Regions from separate parts of the Homo sapiens genome. Here region 1 is linked to region 2. The links come from fine-mapping of genetic effects on gene expression. A gene starts in region 2. The other region holds a variant in brackets. All regions are shown on one strand. Distances are from middle to middle.

What was found. PIP is the estimated chance that this variant, and not a neighbour inherited with it, causes the effect.
Region 1: its variant is fine-mapped to the expression of TBC1D2 in tibial nerve (GTEx, PIP 0.97).

Annotation. Positions count from the first base shown.
Region 1 is chr9:98,216,949-98,228,844 of GRCh38, reverse strand. TBC1D2 (TBC1 domain family member 2) reads left to right here. Exons shown (of 13, transcript NM_001267571.2): 6 at 7,617-8,012. Among named protein-coding and RNA genes, the nearest start is that of MIR6854, 6.3 kb to the left of the region's middle. RefSeq lists an enhancer at 4,976-6,175 and a silencer at 9,784-10,078. The variant C/T (reference allele first, on the strand shown) is at 5,815.
Region 2 is chr9:98,249,209-98,261,104 of GRCh38, reverse strand. TBC1D2 (TBC1 domain family member 2) reads left to right here and starts at 5,456. Exons shown (of 13, transcript NM_001267571.2): 1 at 5,456-5,932; 2 at 9,179-9,320. The coding sequence starts at 5,564. RefSeq lists enhancers at 4,732-5,221, 11,442-11,896 and a silencer at 5,392-5,441.

The DNA of each region.
Region 1 (11,896 bases), 32 kb after region 2:
CTCTCTGGTCTTTAAAGGCCAAACTGCAGAATGTTGAAATATGCTGTTGATTACTCAAGAACCTGATGTCACTCAAAGTAAGTCACAAAAGGGCACCAAGGGCAGGTATCTCTGGAGATCTACTCTAATAACTGTCTCTTGGACCCCTCCTGGAGGGCCATGCATGGTCTCACCCCCTACCCAGAAAATGACATTATTTAGAGGCAGGTGATCTGGATGCAGGGTCATGGGAGGGGCTGTCGATAGAACTGGGGGGAACTTTGACCTGGCAGCCGATATCTGGGCACAGATATCTGAATGACCGTCACAAGACTGTCACAGGAGAAAGCAAACAAGCAGCATGTGTGTGGCCCAGGGCTAAGCCAGGACCAACACAGAAACAGTGAAAGGAATATTTGGGCTTAATATGGTAAGAAGTTAATTACGAGAGTTACAAGAGCTATATAATAATTGTAGAAAACAGATCTCATACACACAGACATTAAAACTACTCCAAAATCCTACATCCCAGAGAGTAAATGGTATTAAAAGCCAGGGGCTACCTTATGAAGTAGTGAGGGTCCCAGGGCAAAGATGTGAGAGGGCTGCAGCTCCGGGCGGGAGCCCCTCTTTAGAGTGATAAAAGCGACTAAGTTAGGCAGTTGTTACATAAATCCCAACGGTGGGGCCTGGTAGGACCTGTGGTGGCAGTGGCGGGCTCCAGTGAGGGCCCAGACTCCTTTTCCTCTAGAGGAAGGCCTAAGCTTTTGTGTTTGAACTTTGGCTGCCCGGAGGCCCTTTCTGCTTTGTTTTCCAGCCCTGACTCCAGAGGACTTAGGCTGGGGAGGTGGGGCTTATGCCCTATTACCTTCTGAATATTTCTTATAACTTGTACATTTCTTCTTTTCTTTTCTGCCCTATTTTGGTGGGAAGAAATCTAGAAAAAATGCTCTCCCTATACCTAGTTTGGCCCCTCGTCTGCCTTTTCTGCCCCTAAGCAGTGACCACTGTCAGCAGATCTCAGGGGAACCGGCAGAGGCTTCATTCCTGGCATGTCAGAAGTTACTTTTTTTTTTTTTTTTTTGAGACAGAGTCTCATTCTGTCACCCAGGCTGGAGTGCAGTGGTGCAGTCTTGGCTCACTGCAACCTCTGCCTCCCGGGTTCAAGCGATTCTCCTGCCTCAGCCTCCCAAGTAGCTGGGATTACAAGCACCTGCCACCATGCCCAGCTAATTTTTTTTTGTTTTTTGGTTTTTGTTTTTAGTATTTTTATTAGAGACTAGGTTTCACCATGTTGGCAAGGCTGGTTTCGAACTCCTGACCTCAAGTGATCTGCCCACCTCAGCCTCCCAAAGTGCTGGGATTACAGGCGTGAGCCACCGTGCCTGGCCAGGAGTTACATTTAGTGAAGCAACTGGTGATTAGACATTAGAGTTCTCAAAGGAGGGGGCTCATTTATTCATACGTTCTTAACTCATGTGTTTATTCACCAAATTTTTATTAAGGGCCTGTTATGTGCATGCAGTGTTCCAGGTGCTGGGAAAGAACAATGAGCAAAAGACACAGGCTCTGCCCTTACAGCTTGCATTTCATGGCAGAGACAGACATTAAACAAAGCAACACCCAAATGTGTAGTTATAACACGTGAGGTCCCCTCTGCTGCTGCTTAGCAGCCCAGCTGTCTTTTCCTCCTGTCATCATGGTGCTCCAGTTCTGAGGCTGCTGGACGCTCCTGAGAGCTGAGAGGGCATGAAACAGAGCCATAGCAGCTACTTGATCCCTGGACTAGTAGAGCTTAAATCCGAAACCCAAACCTGGAAAGAAAAAGAAATCCTGAATATACGGGCAGCCTCTCTTGACACAGCCTTTCTTTCTAAGACATTACAAATTGTCAGATGAAGTAGAAAGGCCCCAGGAAACCTAGATTTCATGAAAGTTTGCCCCTGATTGCTCTGCATCTCTGGAGGACTCATCATTCTTCAATAAATAAAGGCAAGATTCTTGGAGATTAATAAGGGTTGACCAGGCTATTGACAACTCCCATATATTCAGAGGGAAATTGTCAGGAGGAAGTTGTTGATGCATTGAAGAATCTGGATTTTTTTTCTACCAGGTAACCTTCCACCAAACCTCGACTTTGTGTCCTGGGACAGAGGGTCAAAAGGAGAATGAGTTGTGATTTATTTAGTTTATCCAATTATTGTGCAATAGGAGTGGATTTGTTTACTCTCCAACCCATTCCACAAATGAACTTCAGTCTTCAGGGTGATTCAAAGAACCAGCCTTTAAATAAGACAGCACAGGCTCAAATTCTGGCCCTAAGCAAGTTTCTTAACCTATCTAAGCCTCAGTTTCCTCTTCTGTAAATGGAGTTGCAGCCGTGTTTACTGGAGAGACCTGTGCCCAGATTCATAAAGCCCAGTACCTGGCACCCAGCAGCTGCCCAACAGATGCAGGCTCTGGTTGTTCTGGCGATTACTGCAGCCCTCCTTACCCTCCATGTCAATCTCTTCCTGCCCTACAAGCAGTGAGGTGCCCTGCTGAGGGGCTCAGAGACGAGGCGGGAAGTGAGAGCCCATCAGTGCCTTCAGGAAATGTGCCGTGGGGCCATAGCAGTGATCAGGGAGCTTAGGTCTTCATTCCACATTAGGAAGGGAGGAATGGCAGCCCCGTAACTCTAGGGTTTCACCTGTAGCCCAGATACTGAAACCAAAGAGGTGAGACAGAAAAAGCCAGCACAACTTCTGGGTGCCCAGTGGTGCCCCCAGGCACTCAGAATGCCGCTAGGAGAGCCGCTGTCCATCTGAGACCCTCATTAGAGTCCCATTCATCAGCTGGGAAGATGGGCACCTGGAATCCCAGGAGCTACCCCTGCGAGGTACCTTCCTGTGTTTCTTTAGTGGGAAGGCACCTCCTGTCTACCTCAAACTTCAGGAGGACATGGGAATTTGGGGTCTTATCCTAGCTGATCTGGCCATTGCCAGTGGCTTTCGTGACTCTTTAGGAATTTCTATCTCAAACACTGCGAGATGCTCTTGAGAGCACATTGCAGACAAATCCCTGCCCTTGGGCACCTCACCATCTAGTGGGGAAGAGAAGATGTGAGCATGGGAACTGCTGGTATGAAGCGCGGCCCCAGGACTGTGCTGAGCCTTCCCATGTGTTATCTCTGTCCTTACAATAGTTTTCATCCCCTTACTCTGAAAGGGAAACTGAGGTTCTCAGAGTGTCTGCATGCTCAGGGTCTCCCAGGGGCTAAGCCAGCATTTGAGGAGCTCAGAGGAGTTGGGTGACTTGCCCATGCGCAGGCAGCTGGAAAAGCCAGGATTGGGGCCCTAACCTCCTTCTCCAAGTCTAGAGGCTGGGCTGCCTCCTCTCTTCCATAGTCTCATGGTGAGGCCCACTATGAGACACAAGCACCAAAACTGCTCTTGAGAAAAAATGAATGCACTCCCTGTGTACCCCCTGGTGTCATATTAAACCACAGGTTGACTTCAATACCCATTAAGCCATTATCTGTCCCCATACCTGCAGCACTGGCCCCACAAGAGGTTTGGGCTCTAGGAGATAGCACCAGATGGCTGATTGGCCGGGGACTGACCCTTGGAGTTGACAGAACTCCACCCAGCCTGAAGGCCGTCTGCTCTGGCAGATGGAAGGCTGTTGTCTGTGGTGATGTTGGCCATCTGTTGGCGGCTGGGAATGATGAACCCCTCTGGGACCCTGCCTGCGGCCCTCTGGGGCCACCTTAGTTCAATCAGGATTACTGGGTAAAGGAACGTAATTTTTTAGGAAACTCAGTGGGGCAACGTATAGCCTCTTACTTTCCTAGAACTCCAGCCAAAAACTTCAGAGGACATGAAAGAGGGCTGGGAGGTACCTTGGCCATGTCAGCTTGGGGAGGGACACTTGGCACTTTCTCTTTCATGCTAGAGGCAGTTCTGAGCAGAAGAGGAAGCTTTAGCCCCATTCATGAGAAAGCTGAGGTTCAATGAAGAGGCCACCTGAGCTACCCTCCTTAGAGTCACCTCGTTAGATACACCCCCCACGGATCCAGAATGGGAACCGAGGCCTGTGCAACTCCAAAGCCCATGCCCCTTCATCTGACCCCTGTAGGGCCCACCACTGATGAAAGTAGCAATGCTCTAAAAAGATAAAGGATTATTTTTTAAAGATGATTTATTGGCTTTTAAAAATTTAAATAAAGTGACAACTTATGACCACGTATCAAAATCTGAGATGAACCAAACAACTCGATTGAGAAATATTAAAAGTACCACTTGGGCCGGGCATGGTGGCTCACACCTATAACCCCAACACTTTGGGAGGCCAAGGTGGGAGGATCTCTTGAGCCCAAGAGTTCAAGACCACCCCGAACAACATAGGGAGACCCTGTCTCTACAGAAAATAAAATAATTAGCTGGGCAATGTGGTGCATGCCTGTAGTCCCAGCTACAAGGGAGACTGAGGCAAGAGAATCTCTTGAGCCCAGGAGGTTGAGGCTGCGGTGGGCCGTGATTGCGCCACTGCACTCCAGCCTGGGCAACAGAGTGAGACCCTGTCTCAAAAAAAAAAAAAAAAAAAAGAAAAGAAAAAAAAACACTTCAAAAAGCTTAATTTCATCAACCCCTCTATTTTTCTTTTCTTTTCTTTTCTTTTTTTTTTTTTTGAGATGGAGTCTCGCTCTGTCGCCCAGGCTAGAGTGCAGTGGTGCGATCTCAGCTCACTGCCAGCTCCGCCTCCCGGGTTCACACCATTCTGCCTCAGCCTCCTGAGTAGCTGGGACTACAGGCACCCGCCACCACGCCTGGCTAATTTTTTTGTATTTTTAGTAGAGACGGGGTTTCACCATGTTAGCCAGGATGGTCTCGATCTCCTGACCTCGTGATCCGACCGCCTTGGCCTCCCAAAGTGCTGGGATTACAGGCGTGAGCCACCACGCCCGGCCCAACCTATTTTTAAGAATTGGTCCTAAGACATTGCTTATAATCCAGACTTTAGGTTTCTTGAATTCATGACATTCTCACTCCTCATCTTACAAGTCCTACTGAGGCTCCCTCCCTCTGCCCTGGTTCCGTTCTTTTAAGCCTATTTTATTCTGGTACAAGAATTCTGGGGGTGGGAGGAGAGCCTCCTGGGCTGGTGTCTCAGTCTTAGATTCTGGGAGCCAAATGCGGGAAGGAGACAGCTAGATGTAATGAAATAAGCTTCAGAGTCAACTAACTCCCCAAATTGAGGGAAAGACACCCACTGGTCCTGCTCCTAGGGCAAGTCTGAACAATGATGTCTGTTGGTTATTTCCCTGGGCAGTCATCCAAGGTAACCTCCAAATCTCAGCTGAAGCAGAAAATGGCCTAGGCCCCCAGTTTTCCTGGAACCACAGGAATGTTAATCTCTCTCCACTGAGCCCTGAGAAGCTGACTTCTTCATTCTGGACGTTCCAAACATTCCCTTTTGGTTTGCAATCACTGTGCTGTCCTCACCCCAACTTCCTGCCACACCCCAGGGCTCCCACAGCTCCATGGTAGCTCTTTCCTTCCTCCAGGTCTTTACTGGGGCTGTAGCTTGGCCACATCTGGAGGGCCATCCCCACCCTCATCTCCCACCTGCTGCTCGACCATCTCTGGCCCTTCTCATTCTTCACAGTTTCTTTTAAATGCTCTGGACTGGTATTCCCCACAACCTCCACCCCAGACAGAAGTCATTGCCTTTCCCACAAACACCCTTGTTCCCCTGACTTGCAGTAGATCATTCCACTGTGGTGGGTCATGTTCATTCCCACCAGCCTTTGCAGTCCTTGGAGGTGGGAACTCTCACCACTCCCTCTCTGGGCCA[C/T]GGCACCTGGCTCAGGGCCTGGCCTGGCACCGAGTGGTGCTTGGTAAAGGTTGGATGGATGGATGGGCATGTGGAAGGAAAAGAGAGAACCAGAGAAAGGATGGTCACTAGTCCTAAGGTTTCAGAAGATGCAGGCTAATGTGGTCTTGTCATTAGCTTCTCCAAAAAAGTCATGGTTTTTGGCAGTTTTCCTCCAATATAGAATTGTTCTTAGCAAATAAGGCTATCCAGCCAATCCACTCATTTTAATACTTTGGTGTGGTATAGTTGACATGTCTCTAGGAAACCATGTTTTTCCAAATGAGAAGCACAGAGCAGGGCAGTGTTGCCTGAAAGTCATACCTACCTGGTATTAGTTCCACGTGGACCTGGCTGCTGATGTCCTGATCCTGGCCCAGAACAAATTCACATCCCTGCTTTGGGACAGATAGGCCTGAGTCCAGGCGTGGCCCTCCCTGGGGAAATTACAGGCTTAAAGGCACAGGGAGCTGAGCAGACCTTGAGTTCCTGTGTGAATTAGTTGCCCCTGCTGAGGAATAAATCAAGCTCTATTGTTTCTGAACTTTCTAGAGTTCCTTCCACCAGCTTTGCAGGCATCGGCTGGTGGGCTGAAGGTAACTAGGCACAAATGGCTTGAATGAGGTCCTCTGTGTGTGGCTTTACATGGGGATTGCCAGTGTATTTCCTCTTTAACCCTGACTCAACTTGATTGGTAGTGACTGGCTGCTATATTGAGAATGATTCTGAGGCCTCAACTAGGGTAGGCTGTGCAGGAAGAAGTATGGGAGATTAATTAGTGATGTCTGCCACAGGGATGAGAGGGAAGAGTAATGCCACATAGCTGCCACCCCTGGTTTTCTTAGTTACTGAGCACAGGCTTTGGAATCTAGCCAATTGAGATTGAATTCCATTCTACTCTCTGCTGGGCCTCAGTTTGTTCATCCCTGAAATGGATGTGTATATGTCAGGGTATGGGTTCAGCTGCTGTGACAAAAACATCTCCACTGGGTGTGGTGACTCATACCTGTAATCCCAGCACTTTGGAAGGCCAAGGTGGGCAGATCATTTGAGTCCAGGAGTTTGAGACCAGCCCGGCAACATGGCAAAACCCCTTCTCTACAAAAAAATACAAATATTAGCCTGGTGTGTTGGCATGTTCCTGTGGTCCCAGCTACTTGAGAGGCTAAGGTGGGAGGATCAGCTGAGCCCAGGAGATTGAGGCTACAGTGAGCCATGTCTGTGCCACTGCACTCCAGGCTGGGTAACAGAGGGAGACGCTATCTCAAAAAAAAAAAGTTTCAAAGCACTGTGGCCCAAAACGAGTGAGAGGTTTCTCATTCACATTAAAGAACCCAGAGGTAGGTGAGCAACTCTGAGCTGGGGGGCAGCCCTTTCTCAACATGTACCTTCTGCTGTGGGTCTGAGGCGGCCACTCTAGTTCCTGCCACTTCCCAGCCAGAAGCAAAGAGAACTGGACCAGAGGAGCGTGTATCTAGTGGTTTTAAAGGTAGGACCCAGAAGCTGCCCATCTCACTTTTCATTTCCCATTTAGGCAGAATAGTTACTTGGCTACACCTCACCATGGCTTGGCTGGGAGATGCAGTTTTAAGCTGGGGAACCATGTGCCCAGCTAACAGTCACTTGAACAGAGAAGGAGAAAGTGAGTGTCAGGATGAGATGCCGCAGGGATGCTGCTGGGCACCTCTCACGGTTGTTAGGAGAACTACTGATAACATATACCCCACTGTGGCGCCCAGCAGGCCCTCCCTGAGCTCACAAGATTCTTCCCTCTCCCTGCCCAGGAGCTAGTGAAGATCCTGCACAAGGCACTGGAGGCCGCCCAGCAGGAGAAGCGGGCGTCCAGCGCATACCTGGCGGCGGCTGAGGACAAGGACCGGCTGGAGCTGGTGCGGCACAAAGTGCGGCAGATCGCGGAGCTGGGCCGGCGGGTGGAGGCCCTGGAGCAGGAGCGGGAGAGCCTGGCGCACACAGCGAGCCTGCGGGAGCAGCAGGTGCAGGAGCTACAGCAGCACGTGCAGCTGCTTATGGACAAGAACCACGCCAAGCAGCAGGTCATCTGCAAGCTCTCTGAGAAGGTCACCCAGGACTTCACGCACCCCCCTGACCAGTCTCCTTTGCGCCCCGACGCTGCCAACAGGGACTTCCTGAGCCAGCAGGGGAAGATAGAGCACCTGAAGGTAGGGGCCTCCCCTCAGGGCCTGCCAGTCCTGCCGGTCCTCTGTCCCAGCCCTCAGGGAAGGTGCGCTCTCCACCCCTAAGGGTTTGCTAGGTGGAGTGGGGATACCCCTTCATCCTAGAATATTCACATTAGAAACACATGTTGATGGGAATATTGCTCTACGCTTCTTCACTTTCTTTACCACAAGGCCCAGTGCAGTTTGCCTGGGCCTTGATTGACCCATTAACCAGTAGCCCTGGTATCCTGGGCTACTGAAAAGTGAAGGTGCCTCTAGATTATCAAATGAGAGATGAAAGCCTGACTAGCTAAGTGTGGGGCCTGGCCTGGTCAACCTCCCTTAGTGCCATCCCAGTGCACCCGAGAGCCCTAAGGGGCCAGCACGACCCTCCCCCCACAGTCCTGCGCCTGCACACTGTACGGATGACCTGCAGCTGCCAATAGTCACTGCTCCCATCTGTAGAATTTATAGGGTGTTTCCTGTGTGCCAGGCACTGCCCTCGGTGGGTGCATCGCCACATTTAGTCCTCGCGCCAGCCCTGTGAGGTGAGGCAGCCGCTGGTGTGCTCCCCCTTTACAGATGTGGAATGCTGAGGCTGAGAAAGGTTAAGGAGCCTGCCCAGGGTCATGTGCTGAAGAAGTGGAGGAGCTGGAGCTGGGCTGGAGCTCATGTCTGCGGTCTGGTCTGTCTGCTCAGCTGCCGCTTCTAGCTGCTGCCACCATCCCTGCTCCTCCTTTCCTCCCCTTCCTTCCCCTTCTCTGTCCCTATCTTTCCCTAGGCTTCCCCACCCCACAGGGACCAGTGATGTCACAGGAGGTAGGAACTTTATGTGAAGTGTGTTGCCTGCCGTGACCCGCAGCCTCCTCTCTAAAGGGTTGTGACAGGAACTGTCCCACTGGGAGGCCTGTGGCTGTGGAGTGCACTCATAGCCTCCACTGTCCGTAAAGGGAGCCATACAACCAGAGTTCGTCCTGCCCCAAACCCTGCCACTCACAACCACATATGTACAGTCAGATGCCATATAACAGGCTGCATATGTGATGGTCCCATAAGATTACAATGAAGCAGAAAAATCCCTGTCACATAGTGACATCATAGCCGTCATAACATCATAGCACAACATGCTACCTTTTCTATGTTTACATGTGTTTAGATACACAAATGCCATTATGTGACAGCCACCTATGGTATTCAGTACCGTAACAGGTGCACAGGTCTGCAGCCTCGGAGCAATAGGCTACACCATCTAGCTGGGTGCGTAGTAGGCTAAATCACCTAGGTTTGTCTGCGTCCAGTCTACAATGTTTGCACAACAGTGAAATCACCTAATGACGCATTTCTCAGAGTGTATCCTCATAATTAAGCCACACGAGACTGTACATATAGACTTATAACCTTGAGAACTCTCATGCTACTCTATCAAAGAACTACTCGGTGAGGGCAGATGGAGAAAGAAAAAAAAAGAAATCAGGAAGCTTTTGAGAGAAAAGCTCTCAGTGGGCAGTGTTGAACAGTGGCCACCACCCAAGCTTTGAAGTCAGACTGACCTCTTTGACTCTTGGCTCTGCCTCTTTCTGGCTGTGTGACTTTAGGCATGTTAGCTCACCTCTGTGTCAAATAGCCCAACTAGTCCTCTTGACTAGGGCTGTTAGAAGGATAAAGGAAAAGGACGTGAAACCTGATTCCCTTCCCTTTCTTTCAGCAAAGACTGAAAACCCACATAACCAGTTCCCGAATCTTTTCCCTTATTTAGTCTGAAATCAGAGATTCTTTTGGGTTAAAAGAAAAACATAACCTTTCCAATGCAAATGCAGCCAGATGATTAGAAAGCTCTCAGCCCTCCACACAGCAGGGAAAACTGCTTCCATCTGATTGCTTTTCTACCCTGCCTGCCCCCAGCCAGGCGGCTTCCTCTTCTCTCCACCCATACTGCCGGAATCCACTGTGCAAGCCCCGGTAGAGCAGCACAGGGGTCAGAAAGATTTGTGGTGGCGCACGCCTGTGTTCCCGTCTACTCTGGAGGCCGAGGTGGGAGGATCGCTTGAGCCCACGAGGTGGAGGTTGCAGTGAGCTGAGATTGTGCCACTGCACTCCAACCTGGGTGAAGGAGTGAAACACCATCTCAAAGGAAAAAAAAGAACACTAGATCAGCCAGGTGGCTCCAGACAGCCTGAGAGTTGATTGTAATCATGGACTCACTAGGAGACTGAGTGTGCCCCTGAATTTACATATTCAGGAATTTTATTTTTTTTTATTTTTATTTTTTGAGACGGAGTCTTGCTCTGTCACCCAGCCTGGAGTGCAGTGGCGCGGTCTCGGCTCACTGCAAGCTCCGCCTCCCAGGTTCACGCCATTCTCCTGCCTCAGCCTCCTGAGTAGCTGGGACTACAGGTGCCCGCCACCATGCCCGGCTAATTTTTTTGTATTTTTAGTAGAGACGGGGTTTCACCATGTTAGCCAGGATGGTCTTGATCTCCTGACCGCGTGATCTGCCTGCCTCGGCCTCCCAAAGTGCTGGGATTACAGGTGTGAGCCACCGCACCTGGCCATGAATTTTCTTTATCAGTGAGCTCAGCTACATGGAGACTCTGGGTATGTGATTCACATTAACCAAGAATACACTTGCATATGATCCTCAGAGGCCCAGTGTTTTGTGCTTTGTGCTTTAAAGGGTTGCATAAGGCCAGGCATGGGTGGCTCACACCTGTAATGCCAGCATTTGGGGAGGCTGTGGCAGGAGGATTACTTGAGGCCAGGAGTTAGAGACAAGCCGGGGAAACATAGCAAGATCTCATCTCTACAAAAAATTAAAAAATTAGCCAGGCACAGTAGCACGTGCCTGTAGTCCCAGCTACTTGGGAAGCTGAAGCTAGAGGATTGCTTAAGCCCAGGAGTTCATGACCAGCCTAGGCAACATAGCAAGACCCTGTCTCTAAAAAAAAATAAAATAAATTCACTAGGTATGAAGGCACCCGCCATAGTCCTAGCTACTCAGAAGGCTGAGGTGGGAGATTACTTGAGCCGCCCAGGAGTTCGAGGCTGTGGTGAACTGTGATCACGCCACTGCACTCCAGCCTGGACAACAGAGTAAGACACTGTCTCTATTAAAAAAAAAATAAAAAAGAGAAAGAGTTGCATGTAGTTGGTGTTCCTTAGTTTTTAGCTTTTAGAATACCCATCAAATATCCATTGTCTTGAGTTTGAGGACAGAGAATGTTGAGGTTTCCTGCCTGCCCTGTGATTGAGGAACCCAACTTTAGGGAATGCCCCTTGTTATTCAGACTTTGGTTTTGAGAACAGGATCACTGACCTCTTGAATATCAGATCTGGAAAGACTCAGAAATCTAGTCTGCCCCACTCATTTTCTGGCAGGGACAGCTGAGCTGGGGCAAGGGAGAAGGACTGGCCCAGGGTCAGGCAGCAAGAGGCAGGGCTACAGCCGGAACCTGGCCTCCCATGCCCAGGCCACTGCCTTCCACACAGCACAGGGCCTAGTCCATGGGCATGGCCCAAAGAGAATTCCCGGGCTCCTGCTTCCCTGGTCCCCCTTCTCCAGGGTTTTCCTTCTTTCATTCCACTGGTGACTGTCCTGTGGCTTTTCTCTTTTCTGAGGTTTCTCTTTTTCCTCCCTACAGTTCTGAGCCAAGACGAGCACTCAAGGTAGGGCATCGAGCTGGAGGGGGAGGTACTGCCCGACGCCACCCACTGCCACTGCTGTTCCAGGCTGTGCTCACTCTGCCTCCCTGTCCGGCATGTCTGTGCCTTCCCTAGAGCTGGAAGCAGGGTATCTTATGTGACAAAAGCCTTCTTTCCAAAGCCTTAGAAATAACAGTGTGTAGCCAAGCGTGGTGGCTCACAATCCAGTGCTTTGAGAGGCCACGGTT
Region 2 (11,896 bases):
TAATATCCCATTGCATATATCCTACAGTTTCACTTTATATATGTAATTATCTAATTTACCTAAACTCTATTTTGATAAATAGTGCTATGGTGTAAATGTTGGCGTCCCACTCAAAATTCATATGTTGGAACCTAAAACCCAATGTGATAGTATTAAGAGGTAGAGTCTGTAGCAGGTGATTAGGCCTTGAGAGTGGAGTGCTGATGAATGAGATTAGTGCCTTAGTAAACGAGGCTTGAGGGAGTCTGTTTGCCCGTTCCACTGCGTGAGGAGGCAGCAAGTAGGCGCCATCTTTGAAGCAGAGAGCAGTCCTCACCAGACACTGAATCTGCTGGCACCTGGACCTTACACTTCCCAGCCTCCAGAACTGTGAGCAGAGGTTTCTGTTGCTTACAGAATACCCAGCCTAATGTGTTTTGTTATAGCAGGCTGAATAGACTAAGACAGATGCTATAAGATTAATATATAAACTTAACTGAATACGTATATTTTTGTTTTTCAGAACTTTGTACTTGGCTCTATTGATGTGCCTGTCCATGTGCCAAAAACACCGAATTCTGTTGCTCCTGTAATACTATTCACTTTCTTTCTAGCACGTAGGAGACTCTGGAGGTTACTATGTTCATTTACTTCTTTACCTGCCTATTACCCACCTCCTTTGACTAAAATGAAAGCTCAATGTGAGCCGTGACCTTGTCCCACTCATGACTTATCCCTAACATTTTAAATGGTGACTGATGGAAAGTGCTTACTCAATACTTGTTGGCCAAATTACTAAATGTAAATGTCTGGTAGGTTAAATCCTTTCTAGTTGTCCTTTCTCTCCAAAATGTTGGCAACTCTCACTTGTTTACTTCTGAAAAAGTAAAACTTAAAGCTGGGCACAGTGGCTCAGGCCTGTAATCCCAACACTTTGGGAGGTCGAAGCAGGAGGATCATGTAAGCCCAGGAGTTTGAGACCAGCCCGGGCAACATAGTGAGACTGCCATCTCTACCAAAAAAAAAAAAATTTTTTTTTTTAATTAGCCAGATGAGGTGGCATGTGCCTGTAGTCCTGGCTACTCGGGAGGCTGAGGTAGGAGGACTGCTTGAGTTCAGAAGGTCAAGGTTGCAGTGAGCTGTGATGATTGCACCACTGCACTTCAGCCTACCTGGGCAACAGAGCAAGACCCTGTCTCAAAAAAAAAAAAAAAAAAAAATGGAAAAGAAAGGGAAGGGGGAAAGACAGGAAGGAAAAAAAGAGTATGTAAGAATCATTTTAATAGGCTGCAAAAATTCCTATCAACCCCTCCAGGAGGTGGAGCTACTTATAAGGGGGGACTGAATTTAGCAACCCAATTCCAAAGAACAGTGTGTTGAAATGAAAAGGAGCAGCTTTATAGCAGAGAAATCTGGCAGACCCTACCTTATCCAAGTGATTAACTTTTCTTGTTATTAAAACCACCACTCCCGGCCTTAACATCCTTTTAAAATGAGAAAATTTAGGCCGGGCATGGTGGCTGATGCCTGTAATCCCAACACTTCGGGAGGCCGAGGTGGGTGGATCACCTGAGGTCAGGAGTTCGAGACCAACCTGGCCAACATGGTGAAACGCTGTCTCTACTAAAAATACAAAAAATTAGCCGGGTGTGGTGGCGAGCACCTGTAACCCCAGCTACTTGGGAAGCTGAGGCAGGAGAACCGCTTGAACCCGGGAGGCGGAGGCTACAGTGAGCCGAGATTGTGTCACTGTACTCCAGCCTGGGCAAGAAAGCAAGACTCTGTCTCAAAAAAATAAATAAAATAAAATGAGAAAATTTAAGCTACACAACTTAACAGTATAGGAACCATGCAGATATCATGTACTCTGATGTTGTGATGAGACGGGCACCTCACCTCTGTGGTAGTCTTCCCCAAAACATAACCTCAGTGAAATCATGAGACAAACCCAAAGTGATTGTATTCTACAAAACACCTGACTAGTATTCTTCAAACTGTCAGGACCATGAAAAACAAGGAAAAACAGAAATACGTCACAATGCAGAGGAGACTAAGGGAAAATGATGACTAACTATGGCATCTTGAATGGGATCTTGGAATAGAAAAAGGCTATTGGTACAAAACAGACAAAATCCAAATAAAGACTGTAGTTTTGTCAATAGTTTTTTTTTTTTTTTTTGAGAGGGAGTCTCGCTCTGTTGCCCAGGCTGGAGTGCAGTGGCACGATCTTGGCTTACTGCAAGCTCCGTCCCTGGGTTCACGCCATTCTCCTGCCTCAGCCTCCCGAGTAGCTGGGAATATAGGCGCCCACCACTACGCCCGGCTAATTTTTTGTATATTTAGTAGAGACGGGGTTTCACCATGTTAGCCAGGATGGTCTCGATTTCCTGACCTCGTGATCCACCCACCTCGGCCTCCCAAAGTGCTGGGATTACAGGCGTGAGCAACCGCACCCGGCCTTGTCAATAGTTTTGTACCAATGTTAGATGTTTATTTTTGCCAAACATACCAGGATTAAGCAAAATGTTAACATTAGGGGAAACTGGGTGTAGGGTCTACAGAAATTCTCCCATTGTCTCTGTAACTTTTTCTAAAACTATTCAAAAATAAAAAGTTTTTTTAAAGCCTATCGAGGCCAGGCATGGTGGCTCACACCTGTGATCCTAGCACTTTGGGAGGCTGAAGTGGATGGATCACTTGAGGTCAGGAATTCAAGACCAGCCTGGCCAACATGGTGAAACCCCATCGCTACTGAAAATACAAAAATTAGCTGAGCATGGTGCCCTGCCTGTGGTCCCAGCTACTAGGGAGGCTGAGGCAGGAGAATAGCTTAAACCCAGGAGGCAGAGGTTGCAGTGAGCCGATACCGCTCCAGTGCACTCCAGCCTGGGTGACAGAGCAAGACTCTGTCTCAAAAAAAAAAAAAAAAAAAAAGCCTATCGAGAGTTTGATTGAAAATGTATTAACTGTATGGATTAATTTGAGGAATGTGACATCTTTACAATATTAACTCTTCCCACTCAGGGACATATTTGGTTTGTCTTATATCCTACTATAAAGCAATAAGGTATTCATTATGTAAGTCATTTATGTAAGGGATGTTGTCCATTATATTTTCCATTTGTTTGCTGCTGGAGACATCTATACACATATGCACAGTTTTTTAAAACAGGCCACCACTTGAGTTTTTCTGGTATACGTAATATATTTATAATTATTCTTTCAAATATTTATCATTGCCTAGCTACAAAACCTAGAACAAATAAGGTATGCTGTTTGTTTTATTAAGAGGTTTTAAAAATCAGGAATGGGGCCAGGCACTGTGGCTCATGCCTGTAATCCCAGCACTTTGGGAGGCCAAGGCCGGTGGATCACAAGGTCAGGAGATCCAGACCATCCTAGCCAACATGGTGAAACCCCGTCTCAACTAAAAATACAAAAATTAGCTGGGTATGGTGACGCGTGTATGTAATCCCAGCTACTCGGGAGGCTGAGGCAGGAGAATGGGAATTGGAGAGCATGCCACTGCACTCCAGCTTGGGCGACAGAGCGAGACTCTGTATCAAAAAAAAAAAAAAAAAAAAAAATTAAAAAAAAAGAAAAGAAAAGAAACTGGCTGGGTGCGGTGGCAGGAGAATCGCTTGAATCCGGGAGGCGGAGGTCACGGTGAGCCGAGATCGCGCCATTGCACTCCAGCCTGCGCAACAAGAGCGAAACTCTGTCTCGAAAAGAAAAGAAATATTTTGTCCCACATTCTGTACTAAGAGCTTCACACATATTATTTTATTTAATTATCAAAACAACTCTAAGGGTAGACAGGTGTAGATCCAGGTTTTGTGGGGACTGGAATTAAACAGCATTAAGGGCCTTCTGATTTTTAAAAAATTACAAAATTATGAACACAAAATTAGGTATGACGATGGTTATTTAGAATGAGAAAATAAATTGTAAATTATAACAAATGAAGAGCTCTCTGGCATTTAGGAGAAATGCTCCCTGGTTGCAACTCCCCACCTGTTAGACTACAAATCCCAGCGACCCATGCAAGTGAACATAAATTTCATTAGCTTCACCGTAAAGTTGTCTGGCGGCGGGTCGGGGGTGGGTAGGAAGAAGTGTTATCTCCATTTTTAGGTTGAGCAAATCACTCAGTATTGCAGAGTGGGAATCTGAAAATTATGCAAATAGACTCTAGAGCCCTCGCCTTTACCCCCACCCTGCTTCTTGTCAATATCACTGAGTGTGCATGAGGGTCTCGTTAACGACGGCTGAGGGGGAGACGATGAAGTAAGAGGAAAGGCTGAACAAAGGGCAAGAGAAAGGCAGAAAGAAGCTCCTAAAGAAAGCTGGACGCAATTGGGCTCCGCAACCCTAATGGAGAAATGCGCCTTAGGAGGGAAGGGGAGAAGTTTAAGGGGAAACAGGTAAAATGAGGCAGAAGTTGAGCAAGTTAGTCAAACCCTAAATTCTTTTACTTATTTACAAAACAGCCTGGCGCGGTGGCTCTCGCCTGTAATTCCAGCACTTTAGGAGGCCGAGGCAGGAGAATCGCTTGAGGCCAGGAGTTCAAGACCCCCCTCTCTGCAAAAAACAATTTAAAAATTAGCCGGGTGTGGTGGTGCGCAGTTGCGGTCTCAGCTACTCGGGAGACTGAGGCGGGAGGATGGCTTGAGACCGGGAGGCGGAGACTGCAGTGAGCTCTGATCGCGCCACTGCACTCCAGCCTGGGTGACAGAGCCAGACCGTCTCTAAAAATAATAATAGCAATAACAAAATAAAAATAAATGTACTGCACCCAACTATGACCCAGGAGTGGCATGGGTTTCCGCAGCGCAGCGGCCGCGCCTGGGCGCCCCAAGCAACACAACCAGCGCTGTCAGGAGGCGAATAGGAGCCAGGACAGAGAGCTGGGGAGGCCACTGCTGTCAGGCGAGGGATAAGAAGGCCGTCCGCGGCGTCACTGACGGGGCTGAAGGAACACCAGGAGAAGAGTGGCAGACAGCTCCGGAGCCGCGCTGCCCGGGCGACGCCGGAAGATGGGCCTCCCAGCGGTCTTCCTTTCAGCCAATGGCCGCGAGATGCGCCGTCCGAGGGTGCCCCGCGCGGCACAGGGAGGGAACAAGCAGCCCATCGGGTGCAAGAAAGCACTATCTTTCTAGGTGACTATGCGAACTACCAGGGAAGTGTAGCTAGGGACAGGCTTCTCTGCCCGCGGTTAACCTAACTCAGTGCCACCACGCCTTTAACCTGAAGCCAGGGAGCACGGCTGCCCTCAGTAAAGATGGCTGACTGGCGCGGAGAAAAAGCCGGAAGCAGCTGGGCTTTGCAGGGAGCCGACTGAGCGCTGCGGGGGCGTGGCCTGGCGGTGGAGGGGCGTGGCCAGCCGCCGTAACCTGGGTTTGCGATCTTTGAGGCGCGCGCACCGCACCCGGTCCCGACTCTGTGGCTTCCTGGGGGCGGGTTCGCCGTCGGCCCCGCCCCCGCCCAGGTGTCTCCCTTTGGGAAGCTGCCCGCCGAGTCTCCGAGATTTGTCCCTGGTGGTCCCGCGGACCCCTCGTCCCTCCGCAGTCTCCGGCTGGCAGCGATGGAGGGCGCTGGGGAGAACGCCCCGGAGTCCAGCTCCTCTGCCCCTGGGTCCGAAGAGTCTGCCAGGGATCCACAGGTGCCGCCTCCGGAGGAAGAATCGGGGGACTGCGCCCGGTCCCTGGAGGCGGTCCCCAAGAAACTCTGTGGGTATTTAAGTAAGTTCGGCGGCAAAGGGCCCATCCGGGGCTGGAAATCCCGCTGGTTCTTCTACGACGAAAGGAAATGTCAGCTGTATTACTCGCGGACCGCTCAGGATGCCAATCCCTTGGACAGCATCGACCTCTCCAGTGCAGTGTTTGACTGTAAGGCGGACGCTGAGGAGGGGATCTTCGAAATCAAGACTCCCAGCCGGGTTATTACCCTGAAGGTAAATTCCTGCAACGACTTTCTCCTTTCCAGCGGCGTGAGGTCCCCTTTTCGCAGGGCAAGGCTGGGCGCGAGTGTGAGGTGGACACAGTAAATTTGGAGTGTCGGTGACGACAGTTCCAAGAACTTTGTGCTTTGCAAAGTGCATTCCCACCCATTTCCTCATTGGGTTCCCACAAGGCAGGGAAGACAGACCCATTTTACGGATCAAGAAACTGAGTCAGAGGGAGATGAAAGGACTGGCTCGAGGTCCATGCGTCTAGAGAGTAGGGTAGCTTGGAATCCCATAGTCTTTCTACCTCTCAGTGCTGAATCAAAACTTTTACTTTTGGGTGTGCCTGACAGTGCAGTTACCTTAACTTTCTTACCTGGGACCTAAGTAAGTCAAAATATGGTCTTTGCAATCCTCTCTCAAGGCCAGGATTCTGATTCCCGTTTCTTGATATTTTGGCCAAGGTCAGTGAATGCTGAGAAGAGACTGGCAGGGATTAGGAAAATAAACACTTAGGTTTCACTGATCAGCCTAGATTGTTCATCTAGGCATGCTTAAACCTGTTTTCCTATCAGCAGCAAGGGGTAGGTTTTATCATCATGTGTAACTGAGAAAGCCTAAAGCAGTAGAAAGGCCACATTCTTTGAAATCAGACGGGCTTGGATTCAAATTGTACATTTGCTACTTACTAGCTGTGTGACCCTGGACAAGTTACTTAACCTCTCAGAACCTAGGTGGTTTGTAAGCATTTGACACATCACAGGCATGTACAAATTGTTGAATTAATTGCATCACCTAGAATACAGCCTGGTACCTAGTGGAGTACTTAATAATTTTTTGTTGCATAAGCACACATGCACACACAAGGTGATGGAACCAAGGTCAGAGTGCTAATGTCAAGAGGAGGTGTCCCATAACTTAATTGGAAAGACAGATCTGGGCTAAGTGTTCTATGGGCATCAGAGAAGAATGTGCCAGGAGATAGCCTTCCCCACCCCATCCCCATCTGTCCACCCCTCCAACCCCAACTCCAGCTAAGTGGGTATCTGTGGATGCCCACGTGTTCAGTTCTCCTTTACTGACTGGACTTGGCGGGTGACCAGGCTGGGGGACTTGGTTAAAATAATGAAACTCAGGAATCCCTGGCCAGGGAAGGCATTTTCGAGGTCATGTGGTTCCCGGGTCTATGTGTCTCTTCCACAGGTTGACTGCTGTATGCAGGGTCTTCAACACATGGTCTTTATAATAGTATTCCATTGTTCCTGGCTCTGCGCTTGGCGGGGTGTGGAGCTAATGCACCCCCACCCCTGGTTCTCTGACAGCTTAAAGTCTGGTGGGAGAGACTGAGGGAGAACCTGCATGCACCCTGAAATGTTCTGTAGAGACATGTGATAAGTCTGTGCAAGAAGGTGTGGTGACAGGAGGAGTCAGTTCCACCAAGTGGAAGGGGCTAGCCAGAAAGGCATCTGGAGGAGGGACACACCCAAGGCTTGAAAGAAGAAATAGGTGGCAAGCAGACAAGAGGGAGAAAGGTATTCCAGGCCAAGAGAGCACCGTGAGCAAATTAGGAAACCATGATACAGCCCTGAGTGTCCAGGCAAATCACATGAGCCAGAAAAACAGAGGGGCCCAAAGGATGGAGTTGAAGAGCAGAGGCCCGAGGGTGGGGAATTGGCAAATTAGGCCAAGTAGCAAAAGCTCAGTCTGACTATTGGATAGAGAAGAAACTAGGGGAAGGGCAAGGCTGGTACTCAGGGAGCCCATCAGAAGGTGATCAGAAGAGAGTGACAGCTGAACTAGAGCTGTGGCTGTGGGGAAGGGGACAATGGAGGTGTCTCGGGATAGTAGGGAAATAGAATGAGGGAGATGTCAGGAGTGGCTGGAGTAACTGGCTGACTGCCTGGTTGGGTCAGTCACTGACAGGAGGGAACTCAGGATGAGGAGCCCATGGAACATCCAGGTACATGTCCCCTGCAGGAGACTCTCAAGTTCCAAGGGGACAGGGACCATGTGTGTTGGCTCACCCCTGTATTCAGTGCCTAGCACTATCTCTGACACATATGTCAATGCTCAGTATACCCTTGTCAAATGAGTTAATAAAATGGGGTATTTGGGTTCGGCTGGAGCTCATCAGCATTAAGGTCATGGGGAAGACCTGGGAGGTGCTGCAGTCTCTCTGAGAGAGTGTATGGAAAGAGAACACTGGTGGGCATCATTTATCTTATTGATACCTGTGTGACAGCCTGAGGGTCACTTTCACAGACTCCCCCCTGCATAGTGCACACCAGTGAACCCCTGAGATAGGGAGTTTGCCTCTGTTGCCATGTAGCCCGCTGTTGTTCTCATGTGGCCTTGATTGCAGGCAGCTCTCTGAGAATCCCCATCCACGCCCGGTGAGCTGTTCATCTTCTGCAGTCCACCTCAGCTGATCTCAGGCCTTCTTTATGAAGCCACTAATCTCCTGGCCATAAAATCCAACTTCTAGACCAGGGTTATGGGACTAGTTCTACCACCACATGCCTGGGCAACTTCAGAGGTTTAGTTTCTCCATCTGTAGAAAGGGGTGCTCACTCCTGCCTTGCCTCCCTCCTGAAGAATCCAGGAGTTATTGGATGTGAAAGTGGATGTTTGGACCAACCGCCAGCCAGTGCTGGGAGACTAATGACCAGCATTTACCATGAACTTGTTTGGAGGGCCAGAGCACCTGGAAGGTGCCACCATGTTGTCACATGTGCATGTGGCTTTCCAGTCTCCATTCATATCCATGATTCCAGTGCATCCCCAAGGCAAGGATTACTCCTATTCCACAAAAGGCAGCAAAGACTTGGAGATGTCACACAGAGATAGTGATGGTACCAGGACCCCACGCATATCAGAATTCAGTGCACCTCCCCCTCTCACAGCGCCTCCAAATTCCTCTATCCAGTGAGCACATTTTGAGCACCTACTGTGTGTCAGATACTGTGTGATACCCTTGTCTCATTTCATCCTCATCATTGTCCTATGCAATGAGACTTATTGTCACCAGAGTACAGATGAGGAAACTGAGGCCCAGAGCAGCTAAGGAACCGCTGAGTGGGAGACCAGAGCCTGATGATCTTCTGTGGCCAGGAAGCATACATACCTACAGTGACCCCCTTTTTTTTTTCCTGGGAAAGAAAGCATTCCTAAGCCTCCCACAACCTTCCCCTCTTCCTGCACCCAGTGCCACCCTTCAGGCACAGGGCCTTGCCAACTAATCCTTGTGCTTCTCAGGCCGCCACCAAGCAAGCGATGCTGTACTGGCTGCAGCAGCTGCAGATGAAGCGCTGGGAATTCCACAACAGCCCGCCGGCACCTCCTGCCACCCCTGATGCCGCCCTGGCTGGGAATGGGCCCGTCCTGCACCTCGAGCTAGGTACCCAATGGGCTACCCTCCTGCCTGCACACCCAGGGCTCTGGTGATTAAGCCTTTACCCTCCTGCTGGGAATGAGCGGGAGGAGCCCTCTGCTAAGGAAGCAGAGAGCCAGGGATATGACTCAGGATTAGTTAGGGCAAGAATTTGGGCTGAGGCCAGGCTGCCTGGGTTCAAATCCTAGTCCTATATAACTTTAGGCAAGTTGTTTAACCTTTCTGAGCTTGTTTCCTTCCCCATAAGATGAGGTTTATAAATTATCCCTACTTCTTAGGGATGTTTTGAGGATTAAATGAATTCATATACCTAAAATGGTTAGAACAATGCCTGCACATGGTCAGAACCCAATACTTGTGAGCTACTATTGTGATGACTATTATGGAAGGCCTCAAGAAATCAAACTTTCACAGAATTGCTGTGAGGAGGGTTAATAAGAAAATGCAGTGTTGTAGATTTGTGTCGTGAGTTGGGTAGATCAGTGACTTTTTTTTTTTTTGAGATGGAGTCTCACTCTGTTGCCCAGGCTGGAGTGCAATGGTGCAATCTCGGCTCACTGCAACTTCCGCCTCCCGGGTTTAAGCAATTCTCTGCCTCAGCCTCCCGAGGCAGCCTCAGCTGGGATTACAGGCACGTGCCACCACGCCCGGCTAATTTTTGTATTTTTAGTAGAGATGGGGTTTCACCATCTTGGCCAGGCTGATCTTGAACTCCTGACCTCGTGATCTACCCGCCTCAGCCTCCCAAAGTGCTGGGATTACAGGCATGAGCCACCATGCCTGGCCAGATCAATTATTTTTATCGCTGGTGTTCCCATAAGATAGGATCCTTTTCCCCCAGATGACTCACAAATGAAGTTTCTTGATCCCAAATCCTGGATCATCCCAACGTGGAAGAGTCCAGGAGACCACACCCTCCCACCCCCATGCTGCAGCCAGGAACATGATTGGCAGGTTTTAGGATCGGTATGGACCACCTCACAGCTGCCCCTGCAAGAATGTGGAAAATCAGGTCCCAGTACAAAGCCACACTGTGTCTAAAGTGCTTCATGTTCAGTTGACAGGGAGGCCAAATAGGCAAGGGCAGGACTTGTTACCAAGTACCCCCTGGACCTCTGTACCTGGGTGCTTTGCATGTCCAAAGCTGAGTACATCTGCCCCAACCCTTCTCCCCATTTCCCTTCCCTCCTCTCAGTAGATTTCCCCTCTTGTACCCACTAGTAGTTGCCCTCCACCCTTCCTCAATTCCAGCCAGTGAGTCCAGTCAATCACTGTGCTGGCCATTTTTGCCCTCTGACCCATACATCAGACCCAGGCCTTTCTCGCTGCCACTGCCCAGGTCACACCTCATCTCTCAAAGTCACAGTGGCCTCCTCTCCAGTATCCCCATGTGGAGGCCATGCCAGAACCCATCCCCTTCTCTGCAGCCTGAGTGAGCTTTCTTAAACCTGACCCTGAACCCGGTCACTGCCATCCAATGCCACCCACCACCTCACTCCTGCACTCAGGGCTCATCCCTCCTGATCTCACCTCTGCCTGCTCCCCCAGTCCCCACCTTGGGCTTGATGCTTCGGCAGAGTCTCTGCTCTCTCTCCTTTGCCTGGCAAATTCTTGCTTATTCTCTATGGCCAAGCTCCAGCATTGCCTTCTCTTCTTGCCAGCCTCCTCCTGGAAGCCTTCTCAGACTTTGTCAGCTGGATTCTCTCTGGGCCCTCAACACTTTTTTCAAACACTTCAAGGGAGACCTGTTCCATTGTGTTCTATTAATAATTACCCCCGTCCTTGTCCATCTCCACCCGCTAGCCCTTAAGGGTGGGGACTTTTTTTTGGTTGCCTGTGTCACCTCCCTGGTGTCCTGCCTGGCACATTGGATATTTGTGGAATGAATGTGTAAGTCAATACACTAAACTTTATAATTAAATGAGGAAAGGAATGTAAACCCCTTAGCATAACCTCAGGCACATAGTAAGTGCTCAATACATGGGAGTTGTCCTAATAATATTGTTATTCTATGTCTATATGTCTGTGCATAGAACACACCCATGCTATTACTATCATAATAGTATATACACAAACATATATAGGTGCTGTTACTAGTATAATAACTGTTCCTTTTATTCTTAATAATCATTAGTAATTTCTTTGGAGTTTCTTTTGAAGGGTTTCTTTGCTTCTGCTCCAGCCCCCACTCCCCATCTGCCAGGGAGCCAGACAACCCTGGTTTTGCAGAAAACTGCAGCCTGGGTTGATGCTGCTGCAAAGATCAGCATCAGACTAGAGGCCAGCAGAAACCTCTGCAATAATAGAATTCCTGTGTCTTAACTGAAATTTGAAGAAGCAGATTGTGGAAGAACGGCTCTGGGATCCTCAGACCTCTTCTGCTGTGGGGAACCTGTTGCAGGTTCTTTAATTGTGCGGCTTTGCTTCAGCACACACGGCGGGCCTCTTCCAGGCCAGCCCCTGCTGTGGGCATTGGAGAAAGGGGTGGAGTTGCTGTGATGACCTGGGTTCTAGTCTCCTGAGGAGGATGCTGCCTGAGACTCAGGAAGCAGGGACGTGAGCTTCTCCTCTTGAAACCTTTC